2 separate regions of the Homo sapiens genome follow, and region 2 is linked to region 1. A link means that fine-mapping ties the variant in region 1 to the expression of a gene that starts in the linked region. Tissue or cell type: whole blood. Region 1 holds a variant in brackets; the other region holds the start of a gene. All regions are shown on one strand. Distances are between the middles of the regions.

Evidence for each region. PIP is the estimated chance that this variant, and not a neighbour inherited with it, causes the effect.
Region 2: MS4A14 starts here. The variant in region 1 is fine-mapped to the expression of MS4A14 in whole blood (INTERVAL, PIP above 0.99).

The regions. Positions count from the first base shown.
Region 1 is chr11:60,367,232-60,375,342 of GRCh38, forward strand. No RefSeq gene overlaps it. Among named protein-coding and RNA genes, the nearest start is that of MS4A7, 7.2 kb to the right of the region's middle. RefSeq lists an enhancer at 376-882. The variant A/G (reference allele first, on the strand shown) is at 3,497.
Region 2 is chr11:60,392,560-60,400,670 of GRCh38, forward strand. MS4A14 (membrane spanning 4-domains A14) reads left to right here and starts at 3,900. Exons shown (of 5, transcript NM_032597.5): 1 at 3,900-4,157; 2 at 5,293-5,421; 3 at 7,845-7,895. The coding sequence starts at 4,020. It overlaps MS4A7 (membrane spanning 4-domains A7), which reads left to right. Exons shown (of 7, transcript NM_021201.5): 6 at 126-227; 7 at 1,228-3,389. The coding sequence ends at 1,302.

The DNA of each region.
Region 1 (8,111 bases):
TTTCATAATAGTTATGCAAATTGAAGACTGAAGACTAGCAGTCTTCAGTCTTTAGGCTGGGAAAGTGAGTTGTTTAAAACAAGTCCTGTTGTTTATAATCACTTACCAGTTTCGGTCAACTGAATCAGCTGCAGTGAGAAAAAACATTCAGTTTTGATTTGTTTCCTAAAAATATTTTCCTTTTATACTCAAAATTAGTTGCTAACCAAAATTAAAGAAAAAACTTGAGCAATACATTTTGTTTTCTAAATGCCACTAAAATTTTATATGATATAGGAGTGTGTGTATGTGTAAAAATGAAAAATAAAATGTTTCCAAATGCGTTTTAGTAATATCAACAAAAAGATGGCAAAGTTGTTTCATTCCCATTCTCTGCTACCATCTGGTTTAAGAAAATACTTAGAAATTTGTTCAAGTCATAAAGGTATCATTTTGAGAGACAGGACTAGCTGGATTTCCTAGGCCAACTAAGAATTCCTAAGCCTAGCTGGAGAAGGTGACGGTACCCACCTTTAAACACAGGTCTTGTAACTCAGCTCATACACGACCAATCAGGTAGTAAAGAGGGCTCACTAAAATACAAATTAGGCTAACAGCAGGAAGTAAAGAAATAGTCAAATCATATATTGCCTGAGAGCACAGTGGGAGGGACAATGATCGGGATATAAACCCAGGCATTCGAGCAGGGAGCGGCAACCCCCTTTGAGTCCCCTCCCTTGTAAGGGAGCTCTGTTTTCATTCTATTAAATCTTGCAACTGATTGCTCTTCTGGTCCGTGTTTGTTCTGGCTGGAGCAGAGCTATCGCTTGCGTCCACCACTGCAGTTTGCCGCCGTCGCAGAACCACCGCTGACTTCTACCCCTCCGGATCTGGCAGGGTGTCCCCTGCGCTCCTGATCCAGCGAGGCGCCCATTGCCCCTAAAGGCTCGCTATTGTTCCTGCACGGCTAAGTGCCCGGGTTCGTCCTAATCAGGCTGAACACTAGTCACCAGGTTCCACAGTTCTCTTCCGTCATCCACGGCTTCCAATAGAGCTATAACACTCACAGCATGGCCCAAGCTTCCATTCCTTGGAATCCGTGAGGCCAAGAACCCCAGGTCAGAGAACAAAAGGCTTGCTGCCATCTTTGGAGCAGCCCACCACCATCTTGGGAGCTCTAAGAACAAATATTTTCAGATAAATCTTTGAGTAAGTTCACAATTGGGTTATCTGAAATATGCAAGGAATCCTGTTCACCAAGATAAATCCACACACTCCAATAGAAATTATCTTGCAAATTCAATGTCGATAGTTGACATGGTTAGGCATGGTGTCCCCATCCAAATCTCATCTTGAATTGTAATCCCCAAGTGTTTAGGGAGAGACCTAGTGGGAGGTGATTAGATTATGGGGACAGTTTCCCCTATGCCCATTCTTGTGATCATGAGTGAATTCTCATAAGATCTGATGGTTTTCTAAGCAGTAGTTTTTCCTGCACTCTCACACACTGTCTCCTGCCACCATGTGAAGAAGTCCCTTGCTTCCCCTTTGCCTTCCGCCATGATTGTGTTGTAAATTTCCTGAGGCTTCCCCAGCCACGTGGAACTATGGGTCAATTAAACCTCTTTCCTTTATAAATTACACAGTCTCAGGTATTTCTTTAGAGCAGTGTGAAAACAGAGTAATATAATAGTCAACATAATTTGTCTTTTTATTATCTGATCTCCCCATTTTTCTTATAAAAGAATGATTACTTTATTGAGAAGTGGGACTCTGCACAATTAAGAGATGATATTTCCCAGCCTTCTTTGTATATAAAAATGGCAGTGTGACATAGCTCTCGCTAATGAGACCTAAGAAGAATTTTGCTGGAATTTGTGGGAATGGGCTAATTTCTTATTTAGGCATAGCCCTTCCTCTCCCTTCTACTGCTCTCCTCTCACCACCGTCCTTCTTTTCCTTCTTGTTCTTCATAGTCTTTCAAAAGAAAAGGCAAATAGAAAGCTGACAATGGATTATCCAACTTGTTACCATACAGCTCCCATGGAGATGAAAGCTCACCTTATGGAGAACTGAGCACAAAAACCTGAGAATCTGAAAACACTGATGATACTGAAATGGCCATTGCAAAATTCTGGCTGAGAGCATTATTACAGTGAAAGAGATCTGACCTAACCAACTTCACCTTGCTTCTAACCTCCAAGCCATCCTTGTTCATTCCTGGGCCTAGGCCAAACTAACTTTGGGAGGAACTTAATTTACAGTTTGAAACAAAGACAATATCTCCTTTCCAAAACAAGACCCCTTCCTGCCTGGGGTCTAGACTGCCTTTGTAGGAGTAACCAATTAGCCACACAATTAGAAATTATGGTTTAGGAGTCATATAGCTGGAGGCTGCGAAGTTCTCACCCTCCCCAGTCGCTCCTGGGGATAACATCACTATTGTAAAACCTAAGATCAGTGCTTCGGATATTTTGCAGACCCTGCAATTGATGGATCAGCTGGTACCACCCACATTAATAAACTGGCTCATCTGGGTCCTGTGGCCCCCACTCAGAAACTGACTAAGTGCAAGAGGGCAGCTTTGATTCCCTGTGATTTTATCTTCGACCCAAGCAATCAGCACTCCCAACTCACTGGCCCCTTACTCACCAAATTATCCTTAAAAAACCTAATCCCTGAATCTTTGGGGAGACTGATTTGAGTAATAATAAAAGTCTAGAGGGTCTCCCATAGAGTCAGCTGTGCATGAATTAAACTCTCTCTATGGCAATTCCCCTGTCTTGATAAACTGGCTCTGTCTAGGAACTGGGCAGAGAGAACCCACTGAGCGGTTACAATATCGTAGGTCTTGTTAATTAGCTCTAGACAGTTTCCCTAGACTTCTTGAAAAAGCCTGCATTTCTAACTGGTGAAGCTTTGGCATTAAGGAATGCAATCTCAAATTGATATACTAATCTAGGTATTTTTAGAAATAATGTAATTGTACAAATGAGCAAATAAACTTCAAGTTATTCTAATATTAAAAGTGAGGTTAAAATTGTTTTCACTAATAATTACCTCAGTCACCTTTCCCCACCATTTAGAATGCACCATTTGTTTAATGCTATAGCTGGGATTACCTTAAAAATCTCCTGGTTTTATTGATTTCTAGTATTTAATGGGTGAAGAAATTAATCTACAGAAAGCCATAGTGACTCACCCAGATTTATGATTCAGACTTAGAGTTTATAAGTCCAAGACCAACATTGTTTCTTATATGCTGTGTTGCCTACAGGGGTCCATAGTACCTGTTCTCTACCATTTATTGTCAATACTCAGCAGAACTATTAATACCTCAGGGAAGCAAGATTAGTAAATAATGGAATATGTATCAGCATTGCAAACATGAGCTATTTCATGAAGGCCAGGGTGAGAGCATTTCATCAGCTTGGATTCTCAAGGTCTCATAAATGCTTTAATTTGTAACTGCATCAACATGTCTTATGGTGATGCTGGACATCAGTGTAACACAGAC[A/G]TAGACAATTACCTTCAAATCCAATTATCGGGGAAGCCAAAGGTTTACCTAGGAAATATTACCTTTGCCAGGACTAGGAACGTCTCAGTTTGTTTTTGTGAAGCCTTCGTGATTGGCACAATATGAGTTTAAAGTATGGAGAACCGGATTCGGTTTCTAGCTTGTACAATTAACAGCTGTGTAAACAATGACTCACTCAAGAATTTTGTCAGCAGAGTATTATTTGTATTGGGTTTTGTTTGTGGGGATTGTTTTGTTTGCATATATATTTGTGTATTTTATGTGGTTTTGAGGGGCATGGGGGTTCTGCTCATCTCTGTGTGTCTACCCAGGTCTCTAGTAGTCACTTTAGCCCAGATAGATTCTTTAGCCATTAACTAAATATTGGCTTCCTAGTTTTTCACTACACATACAATAACGTACGGTAATCAGATGTGTGACTTTGCCATGTGTACATACTTCCAGAACTGCCAGTTCAAAATAAACAGACCCTCCTTGACATGGAGAATCCACATAATGTCACAGGAATGACTCACATACCTTCCAGGAAGATATGTGAGTAAAAGAAGCTCTTCTATGCTGTGGATAGTGAGCAGAGCTATAAAGAATTAAGGCTATAGAACCTATAATTTAATAAGATTTTTTTTTCTGAGTTTTCCCTGGTGGAATAAACAAAGGGAAAATGCATTTTTGTCTACCTTGGGAGGGAAAGTAACATGATTGTGAAGTCTCTTAGATTTAATGCAGCTTTGTTTGATTTCTAGATATTTCTAAGAGTTTGTTAACATTTGTAATAATAGGCACCAGAAACTTCTATGGGAAAAAAGGGAAAACGTGAACAAAAAAAGGAACTATGGCATTTTCACTGAGGAAGTAAAGCGTGATCTGGAGAAATAAAAAACAGACAAACACATATTGGTCCCAGGCCAGTTTTAAGAAACCCTTTTATACTAAGCCCTTTTTAACAGAAAGTGTTAATAGTATTCAATTTTTTTAAAAAAAGAAGGAGAACTCATAAAATTCACTTAGCTCTCCTAATTACGGCAAATTATTGGAACAAATTGTTTTGTTAAATTCAATCAGTCTTAGGTCTTAGAGACGCTACAAATGGGATTATCTTATGGACAAATGTGACAGAAATGGGATGGGAACTTGAAGAATATAATGATTTCTGAGGATCAGGAAAGTGGAATTAAGTCCTTCTGATTTCGAGAAATTACTGGGCAATAGTGCAGATCAGCTGCTGTTGGGAGATAGAAATCATTGCAATTTTAATAGGCTAAGATCAGTGGTAGTGCAAAGGAGGGCATAGGATGAAGCAAACTTTATAGATATAAAATGCAAACCTATAAAATGGCCAGGATGTCATATTGGAGATAAAGACACCTTTGGGAGACTGTACTAGAGAGGATTAGCAAGGCACCTGTTGTGGTTACACACAATCCCAGTGTCTTCTAAACCCCAGTTTAAAAGACAGTTATCTGACCTCTCTCCAAGTTTATTACAGACTAAAGAATCACAGTTGCCTGTAAATATGTCTATGTTTGAGGAATTGAATGACTATCACTAAGAGATGGGATTCGAATTTATTGGAGCTTCCAAGAGTCTTTACAAGAATGGCAAGAATGTTGCAGGGGCCCAGGGCCGGGCACGGTGGCTCATGCCTGTAATCCAGCACTTTGGGAGGCTGAGGCGGACGTATCACGAGGTCAAGAGATCGAGACCATTCTGGCCAACATGGTGAAACCCCGTCTCTACCAAAAATACAAAAAATTAGCTGAGCGTAGTGGCATGCACCTGTAGTCCCAGTTCAGGAGGCTGGAGCAGGAGAATCACTTGAACTCGGGAGGCAGAGGTTGCAGTGAGTCGAGGAGCCAAGATCATACCACTGCACTCCAGCCTGGCGACAGAGTGAGACTCCGTCTCAAAAAAAAAAAAAAAAAAAAAAAAAAGAACATTGCAGGGGCCAAGGGTATAGCTTCCCTTTTGCCCTCTGAAGTTTCGCTGAAAAGTCAACTTGTAAAAGTCAGATTAATTGAGAAAAGGCATACAAATTATTCAACACATAGACATGAGGGCCTTCAGAATGAAGACCCAAAAAATATAGGGGAAAGTATCCATTTGTATGCTTAGGTTCAACGAAGTAAGGACAGCCCTGTAGAAATATGACTGGATATAATCTATGCTAATAGGCTTAGTTAGAACCGAGCAAGACCCGTCTGTCTAGGTTTTTCTTGGCCTCTCTGTGCTGCATTCCTTCATTTTGGTTGTAGGACAGGACCATCTCTGGAATGGGCATCTTATGACCTACAGTCAAACAAGATAGCTCAGATGATTTCTTTATGACCAGTTTTACACAGATAGAGTGGAAGGAGAGTTAGAGTAACACTTTTAGGTTTTAAGGCTGGCTGTGGCAAGAGGGGTGTCTGGTTTCTATGACCCACCTTGGGGAGGGATTCTTGTTTGTACAGCTAGCCTCAAAGGAAGATAGGACTGAGAGACAGGAAAGGAAGTCAGAGAAAAACTTTTGCTTCTGAGGTATTGTTTTGGGGTATTGTTTTCTGAGCCCCTAAATACATAATAGGTATCTTTGTCTTTGCCCTTTTTATTGTTCTTTTCCTCCTTTTTTCTCTTATGTGCCACTGTCACCATTCTCAGGTGGGCTTTCGAGAATGAATGTGCAAAATTCATGATTAGGGTCAACCACATCTCCATAGCTATGGGCCTTACAAGCATTAACTGTCTATCATTTGCATCTTCAGACTGATATTCAGAACAGTTTCAGGATTCTCACACTAGCCTAGAGAACAATTTTTTAAATAATTCCATCAACATATTGATATGGGAGAGGGGCAGGGAAGTGCTAAGTAGAGAAGGGCAGGGTCCCTGGCGAGGTTCCACCCTCGGCCTTTGCCCACAAACCCAGGTGAGGACAGGCACTCCTGTTTTCATGCCAAATGTTGCATTTCCAAGCCAGCCATGCCCCTCCTCCTGTGCCTATAAAAACCCTGATACCCTAGTGGGTATACACACACAAGTGGCTGGATGTCAAGAGGAACACACTGGCAGAAGAACACACCAACAGTTGCTGGCAGACCATCGATGGCAGAACAAAGCAGATACCAAAGGAAATTCAGCTGAGGGTGGTTGGAGGAGAGCCAGGCTGCTGAGCAGCCCTACTCCAGAGAAGACCACCTTCCCACTCCATCCCCGTTCTGGCTCCCTGTCCATCTGTTGATAACTACTATCACCACTCAATAAAACCTTGCACTCACTCTCCAAGCCCACATATGATCTGATTTTTCTGGGACACTTGGGCAAGAACCCTGGGATACAGAAAGCCCTCTGTCCTTGCGATAAGGTAGAGGGTCTAACTGAGCTCATTAAAGCAAGGTGCCTGCGGACGGCTAAGCTGAAAGAGCACATTGTAACATACACCCATTTGGGCTTCGGGAGCTGTAAACACTCAACCCTAGATGCTGCCATGGAGTCGGAGCCCACGCTCCCCATGACCTGCCCGTCTGCATGCTTCCCTTAGGGGTTTGAGCTGCGGGGCACCAAAGAAGTGAGCCACACCCCCATCACGCACCCTGCAAGGGGGATAAGGGAAAACTCCCCTCGTTTCAATATGTTAAAGCTTATTCACCCCATGAGAGCCATTTGGTTGGTAGGCTATTAATTATTGCCTCAATTTCAGAGCCTGTTATTGGTCTATTCAGGGATTCAACTTCTTCCTGGTTTAGTCTTGGGAGGGTGCATGTGTCCAGGAATTTATCCATTTCTTCTAGATTTTCTAGTTTATTTGTGTAGAGGTGTTTATAGTATTTTCTGATGGTAGTTTGTATTTCTGTGGGATTGGTGGTGATATTCCCTTTATCATTTTTTATTGCTTCTATTTGATTCTTCTCTCTTTTCTTCTTTATTAGTCTTGCTAGCAGTCTATCAATTTTGTTGATCTTTTCAGAAAACCAGCTCCTGGATTCATTAATTTTTTGAAGAGTTTTTTGTGTCTCTATCTCCTTCAGTTCTGCTCTGATCTTAGTTATTTCTTGCCTTCTGCTAGCTTTTGAATGTGTTTGCTCTTGCTTCTCTAGTTCTTTTAATTGTGATGTTAGGGTGTCAATTTTAGATCTTTCCTGCTTTCTCTTGTGGGTATTTAGTGCTATAAATTTCCCTCTACACACTGCTTTAAATGTGTCCCAGAGATTCTGGTATGTTGTGTCTTTGTTCTCGTTGGTTTCAAAGAACATCTTTATTTCTGCCTTCATTTCTTTATGTACGCAGTAGTCATTCAGGAGCAGGTTGTTCAGTTTCCATGTAGTTGAGTGGTTTTGAGTCAGTTTCTTAATCCTGAGTAAAATGCTATTCTTAACATCAGTTCTGTTCCATTGGTCTATTCACCTTGTTACTAGGCTTATTACTAGGACTATGTAGTATGCTTCCTCACTGTTCTATTTGAACATTCTAGGAGAATGAAAACACCATAGAGGAAGGTGGTTTTTTCTGTTCTGTCCATTGATGCAATCCAAGCACCTAGAACACAGCCTGGCACAGAAGAAGCACTCAAACTGTGGTATTTCAATGAAAAGTGAGGAATATTTTTCATGTGGAATTT
Region 2 (8,111 bases), 25 kb after region 1:
GGATTAAGCAATTTTCCCTGTCTCCTTTTCTCTGCATTGCTGGAGCCTCATCGCCCTGTCTCCTCTTAGCCAGGCACAAGGGCTAGCTTGTCTTGGGTACCAGCCATTCATGTCCTGATTTGCAGGGTGTCCTAGTGGTGATGCTCATCTTCACTGTGCTGGAGCTCTTATTAGCTGCATACAGTTCTGTCTTTTGGTGGAAACAGCTCTACTCCAACAACCCTGGGGTGAGTATGCTGACATGTCGCCTGATACCTGCTGTGTCTCAGGTCCAGGCTACAATAATCCAACCTCAAAAAGTGGCAAAAAGAAGAATCAATTATTGTTCATGAGGTGCATGTGGAAGGCCACTTTTATAATTAAAAAAATGAGTTTAACAGTGAAACCCCATCTCTACTAAAAATATGAAAAACTAGCCAGGTGCAGTGGCACACGCCTGTAGTCCCAGCTAGTTGGGAGGCTGAGGCAGGAGAATTGCTTGAACCCAGGAAGTGGAGGTTGCAGTGAGCTGAGATCACACCACTGCACTGCAGCCTGGGTGACAGAGTGAGACTCAGTCTCAAAAAAAAAAAAGAGTTTGTATAAATGGGCTCCTTCTGGAGGACACTCTGGTCATCTGGGATCAGCTGGTGTCTACTGGGAAGCAGACCAGTTAGAGAATTGCTTAATATGAAGCTAGTTGGTTTTAGAAATCACATAGCCCAACCCCTCATGAAAGAACCACGGCTTGGATAAAATTACATAGAAAATGAATGACACAGACTATTGGGCTGAGAATGAGAACGCGTATCCCCTCACTTTTATCGGGAACACAGCTACCTGCCTCCCGAGAGAGTCTCCCTAGCCAAGTTTCCTTGTTAATGTGATGAGACTTTACTAGAATGTCTCTGTCCTGTTTATGCTTCCCTGTGCTCTTCCTTACATCCCCTTAGCTCTTGATGTTATAATTTTAAAATATTTTCATTTCCCCTAAAGGCTACAACAACAAAAGAAATGTTTATAGAATTTGGATGAATTATGATTTAACTATGATCCTATTTAAAATAGTAAAATAATTAGCAGACTGGAGAATTGCATTATTTTTAATTAATATTGCTGCAATTACATATTATGGCAAAGTTGGAAGAACTAGTACTACACAAAACTTGGGGAAAAGGTATTATGAGTTATCTTTTTTAATCTCCGAAATCAAAGTTTAAAAATTCTAACCAATTATGTATTTTCTAGAGTTCATTTTCCTCGACCCAGTCACAAGATCATATCCAACAGGTCAAAAAGAGTTCTTCACGGTCTTGGATATAAGTAACTCTTGGCCTCAGAGGAAGGAAAAGCAACTCAACACTCATGGTCAAGTGTGATTAGACTTTCCTGAAATCTCTGCCATTTTAGATACTGTGAAACAAACTAAAAAAAAAAAAGCTTTTGTTTTGTATTTGTTTACTATGAGTCGTTATTTAATTTCTCTTGAAAATAATTTCCTCAAAGCCCAAGTCAATAAATGTTATCAGCCAGTCTTCCAAAATGGTCATAAACTTTATAAACTGCTTTGGGTAAACTGAGCAGAAGGTGATACACAGAAGGGAAAATGTGCACTCATGCTAGTGTGAATTTGGTAAGTTGCGTGACTCTGCAGGCTGTTTCTGTATTATTTTCACACTCATATTGCTTAAATATTACATATTAGGGATTGTAAGAAAACTTTAATTAAAAATTAAAGACTATATATAATTAAACTACTCTGCCCTGGACACTCTCTGAGAAACAGATCTACTGGGCCCTTTTTCATGAGCCATTAGGTGGAAGACAGCAAAGAGATCTTCTCAAGTGCTTAGGATTACCTCTCAACACACAGCAAGCATGTCCCTGCCTCCCATGAATCTTACCATGTAAATCCAAATCTCTGCAATCCTGTGGCACCAACCAGTGGTGCTCATTCTATTGTTTAAAAATGGCCTTCTTGGCTGGGCGCGGTGGCTCACTCCTGTAATCCCAGCACTTTGGTAGGCCGAGGTGGACGGATCACCCGAGGTCAGGAGTTTGAGACCAGCCTGGCCAACAAGGTGAAACCCTGTCTCTACTAAAAATACAAAAAATTAGCCAGGCATGGTGGTGCGCACCTGTAGTTCCAGCTACTTGGGAGGCTGAGGCAGAAGAATCACTTGAACCCGGGAAGGGGAGGTTGCAGTGAGCGGAGACTGCACCACTGCATTCCAGCCCGGCCTACAAGAACAAAACTCCATCTCAAAATAAATAAAAAAATAAATAAAAATAAAAATAGACTATATATAGTCTTTGAATTCATTTATTTTAAATAAATGAATAAAATAAAATAAAAAAGAATATTCAGTCGTTGGCACATAAACTATGTTCTCTTCTGTCATTTCAGGGTAGGAGTCAATGAAGACATCTTAGTCTTAACAAGTTACAGATAATCTCTGACTGGCATGTTTTCTGCTTCTAGCTTGGAGCTAAATGCTGCTCATGCTGAAAAGAATAATGTCTATTTCTTTGTTTGGGTATTAGCTCTATTTTGATCTATAGCACAGTTTTGTAATTCAGATCATCACCCCTGCACTTTGTACCACATGGGCGTATTCTTTCTTCCCAGTCATTGCTGCAATTATCTTGTCTGTTCTTTGTGTAATATGTTCTGTGTGAGCCTCTGCATTAAACTCGATTTCTTGGGCAATTATGGAAATTCCAGTGTGGCTGCAGTTTAACTTTGCACTCTCTATGCATATGAGGTTTCCTAAATAAATGAGGAGTAGCATAGTTTAAAATATATATATCTTATAACTTTCTACAACAAAGAATTATTGAGTCCAAATGTCATCAGTGCTCATTTTGAGATACCCTGCTATCGATGGTCGCTACAAACCAGGAAATACTCAAGTTATTATGTGTATACATTGGTTTTAGTTTTATGAAACAATTTACCTTCATGATCTCATAGTTAAAATTGTAATAAATTTAGGAATATAAAGGATCAATATGGGAAGCAAAATTTCTAAAGGCAGTTTCTGTTGTTTTAATTAGTATTTGTGTAGTTCAAACCAGGAAGGATTTGACTATCATTAGATTTTGCTTAACTTTATGAAAGCTAAAATATTCTCTGTTATAAAGGGGCAACTCCATCTGGTCCTATAGCATCTTTACTACTGATTTTTTTTTGTTTAATTTGAAAATGCAAAGAATTGTTAAATGTTCTTAAATGTTCTCACTACAAAAAAAGAAAAAAGATAACTACGTGAGGTGATGGATATGTTAATTAGCTGGATTGTGGTAATCATTTTGGAATGTATATGTATATCAAAACATGTAGTACACCCTAAATATATATAATTTTTATTTGTCAAATATACCTCAATAAAGATGGAAAAAAATCGAAATTCAAAGTTATCTACTGATTTTTATAATACAGAGAAATATGGTTAAACAGTAAGTTAGAAAATTCATCAAGTAAAAGAAACTCCTTTCAAAGGAGGGCAGAAGCGTGGCTGAGTTTAAAAAACATAGATTTTGGAGACAGGTCAAGTTGAGTTTGCCCCTTCCCTGTCCTGTATGTCTTTGGGTGACATAACCTTGCTGTTCCTCAGTTTCAGTATTGTAGAACTGTTAAAAGAATAAATGTTAGTGCATGTCAACACCTTCTACACAGTTCCCAGAACATAAGGAATATTCCATAAGTTTTAGTTCCTTTATAACTCATGAACATATGTGTAAGGACTTGTTTCGTATATACCATCTATTCTTTGTTTACCATATGTTTGTAAGCAAATTGACAAGAGAGTAAGTCTTCTGGATACAGTACTTTTCACCAGGAAGATGGGGGGCTGAGCATGCTCTAGAATTCTAAAACTCTGTGACTCAACTATGATTCTGAGATTCTACTACTGAGTAGAGTCATCACTAAGGGCTCATCTCTGAGGGCTCCATGTGACTCTGGTGGAGAGGTAGATCATGATTTGGGCGGCAATGTTTGCTCACTCTTTCCCTTACTAGAGTTCTGCCATAGAATCATGGAGTCAACATCCCAGGACAGAAGGGCAACTCACGTCATCACTATAAAACCAAACGAAACTGTATTGACTGCATTTCCCTACAGACCTCATAGCTCTCTGCTGGATTTTCTGAAGGGAGAGCCAAGAGTCTTGGGGGTAAGTCCTCTCCAGTCAATAGGTCTTCCAGAAGGGGAGAAAAGAAGTTTATTTATTCATGTATGTCTGCAGAGATATGCAGAGATTATTTTCAGGGAGGGAGTTAATTCTACTTTTCCCCCTTCACCTTACATGAGAAATTAGTACTGATCTTTGAATCCCAGCAGAGGGGGAAGCAAGAAACTAGTATAACTTTTTAAAATATCTCATTGAGGAAGTGACTTCAGGGTGTGGTGGCACCTCCCTTGAAGCTAAGAAACCATAAGTGGAGAGGTTTGACTTCCCCTTCATGCTCTTAAAGGAATTGGGAGTGCTTCAAAACCCATATTCAAAGCTCCACAGTGAACCAAATGATAAGGCATGCAAAACGTTTTTCATCACAAATGCACCCAGGGGAGAGCTGTATGCACAGCCTCCATCCTTTGTACAACAGCAAAAATCATTACTTGGTGTGCCACAGCCCAGAGATGTGGCCTGGGGACAAAATCTAGACTGCCAGAGAAGTTGCGCCCTGAGAACCACTGCTGCTATTCTTTTCCCTGCAGATTCCTACAAGCTGATAGGCCCACTGGGCTATTCTCATCCCTAGTTGGGTCCATGGATGAAGGGGAGGTGAAATGCAAGCTCATCCCAGGTTCTCCACTCTATGTCATCAAACTTTTTAAATTTTTAGACAACTGGGATGAGCCCCAATTCCAAAAGCCTATACTGAGTGCTGGAAAATGTGGGGGTGGGGGCTGTTAGGATAATAATAGGATACTGGTGAGACAGACGAAAAAACAAATGTAAAGGTGAATAGTTTATAGTCCCTGTGCTCAAGAAGCTTATAATCTGGGGGTAGTCAGACATGTACTCAAATCTGTCTGATATAAGATTAATTGGTAACACCAGGGAAGATAGAAAATAATAAAGAATAAAAGTGAAGGATTTGAACCTGAAGGATCCAGGCAAGCAAAGTGGGAAGGAAACACATTGAACTGAGTCTCTTAACAATCTGAGAATGATTGACAAATGAGAGAGGAAGGCATTTGGATGGAGGGAAAGGTGTGCCATGGAGGCACACCCTGAGGGACGTGGGGTAGCCCACAGGGTCTTGGATACTTGTAACCTCATGTACCCATTTCTCTCCTCACAGGCTACCCAGATCCTGCTTGCTCTAATCATTGTGGGCTTTGGAACTATATTTGCACTTAATTACATCGGTTTCTCCCAAAGACTTCCCCTTGTTGTCCTCACAGGATATCCATTCTGGGGAGCACTTATTGTGAGTACTGTCGATTAGAAGCTTTGGAGAAATTGCTATAAAGATAGATTTGAACTGCTTCACGTCCTAGGGTAATGAATTCCATAAATATGGCCCTCCAGGAGACCAAAAAAGGCAGCTCCCTTCACGGCAAAAGAAGCAACTCCATTTGGTCACTGCACTACCATCATCATTGTAATAACTACTCTCAGGTGCTTAAAATTTGTTTCCAAAGCCCTTGTGTGTATAGTAAGACATTTGCTCCTCAATACCAACCTGGGAGACTAGATGCACAAATATCCTACTTATTCCTTTGCAAATAAGGAAACTGAGCTCAAAAGTAGAGAATAACTTAAACATATCTAGCCTAGCTAGCACTCATGGAATCACAGACTCTGAAAGCTTAAAAAGAATTTTAAAATTATTATCACTCATCCTCCTTCTTAGCCCCAGAGACAACTTTATGAGTGGCACTCATCTAGATAATCATATAGCCATAAATATTATTCTTAATACAGTGCTATTTCTATCCAATCCCCACAGCCTGGATTCCTAATTTTGTGCCATAATATTTAAGGACAGACTCATTAGAGCTTCTCCTACTATAACATACACTCCTGAGAAGACAGCAGTGTTACTGTCTGTTTTAGTTGTTATATTCTGAGAACCTAGAATCATGCTTGAGGCATAGTGTGCATGAACGAACGAATGAATCAATCAATCAATCAATCAACAAATAGGTGAAATAATTAATAAATTAGGCCACTATCTCTGACTATTAAAAATCCACAGTCTCTTTTGATAAACAGAAATACTCCATGCCTTTTCTATAATGTGCATTTCAGAAACAACCAGCAGTGTTTTCATTTTCCCAATATAAATAATGTAATATTCAATATGATTTTCAAACTATACATGCCATACTGTAGAAAATCAAACAGACCAACCCCTCACTTTCTCATTTCACAACAGAATTGTCCCAGTGTGACTTTGTGTACTCTGCATGTGTGAATTAAAATGAGATTCTGGCATGCTGCTTTTGAAAACTCTACTTTTCACTTAAAAGATATTTACTGAGCACATACCGCGTCTTCAATGGCATCCTAGGTGCTGAGACTGAGAATACTGGAAAACAGCTCCTCTCTGAGAGAAGTGGTGAATTGTTCTTAGATTTAGACAGTTTGTCATCTAACTGGGAGACTAGACATGAAAAAGTCAAAAGTAACCCCAAATATTTGTTCCTACACTTGTGCTAAGTGCTCTAAGAGGAGAGTTCCAGGTGCGATGTGAGGGTTTAATAGAGGACTCACCTGACCATGGAGGTCAGGCAAGTGCTTTCTGCGTAGCTGCTCACTAGGCGAAGTGGAAGGAAAGCATCCCTGGCAAAGATAAAGCATGAGCCAAGGGCTTGATGTGGGAAAGAGTAACCAAAAGAAGACCAATGAATCTATCGTGATGGCATAAAATGAGGCTATAAAGGTAGGGTGTAACCAGGTCGTGCCAACCCCTATAGTCATGTTAAGAAAATGGAACTTCAATGTGAAAGCATGGGAAAGCCACTGAACGTTTTTAAAGAGGATAGTGACACTTGAAGACTTGTTGAAGTATCATTGTGTTTTTAGAGTGAGAAATTAATTCAATTATAACAGTAAACCTAGGAGAATCCAATGAGAGGAGGCTACAAACACACAGATGAGGAAAGAGTTTCCCGAACTAGCTTGGTGGCAATGGAGCTAGAGATGGAGAGCCTTGAGAGTGACTCGGAGGTAGAAGTGACAGGACTTGGCAATCCAATGTGGGGAGTGAAGCGGAGGGAGGTATCAAAGGTAACTTTCTGATCTCTGCAAGTCAGCTGCAGATCCTTGGACTCTAAGACCCAGATGTCCCCAAGGTCCAAGGCCAGTTCCCACAGAGAAGGTTCCCATCCCCAGAACATTAAAAAAGTAAGGGACTCCACATGGAGTGACAGAGTTCTCATTTTCCTGAGGTGGTACTAGGCTCTACGATCATGGGAAATGAGGGACTCTGATAACTACACTAGATATCAGTCCCCATATCAGCCTTTAGAGGGGTCTTCCTTGAGAAAGTCTCCCTTCACCTGCTCAGAACAGGCACAGCTCCTCCTCTTCTCTTCAAGGCCCAGAGCTCAGGAATCTCTTTTTGGAGCCCCAGCCGGATCAAACATCTGGTCCTCTGGATCTTAGAGGAGCCTGCCTGTCCCAGTTGGCCCTGGCAGAGAGCGCTTGTTCAGTGCTGAGCAAATCCAGCACAAAGTTTCTTCCTACCCTACCTACGCCTACCTTCCCTACTCCCTGATGCTCAGGTGGAAAAACGGGATGGTCTTGGAGATTCACAAACAGATATTTTGCAAATCCAAGGGAAATTATACTGCAAGGTGGTCAAACACATCACCTGTTAACTTTTGTCTCTTGTCTTCTTAACAGTTTATTCTTACAGGATACCTCACAGTAACCGATAAGAAATCAAAACTTCTGGTAAGCCACTTAAACTACATAAAATTTAAAATCTTCTATTTGTTTTATATCATCTTTATGTATGAAGCCTTTAGTAATAAAGTTACCTTTCAGGAAAATCTGTATGCATCAAAGTTGCAGTTCAGATCATTCCTATTTGCCAGTGCCACTGTTTGCCTGACAGACATTCTTACACTTGTTCCCATTTCCCTGGTCAAGTAAACTAAAAGAGTTGTT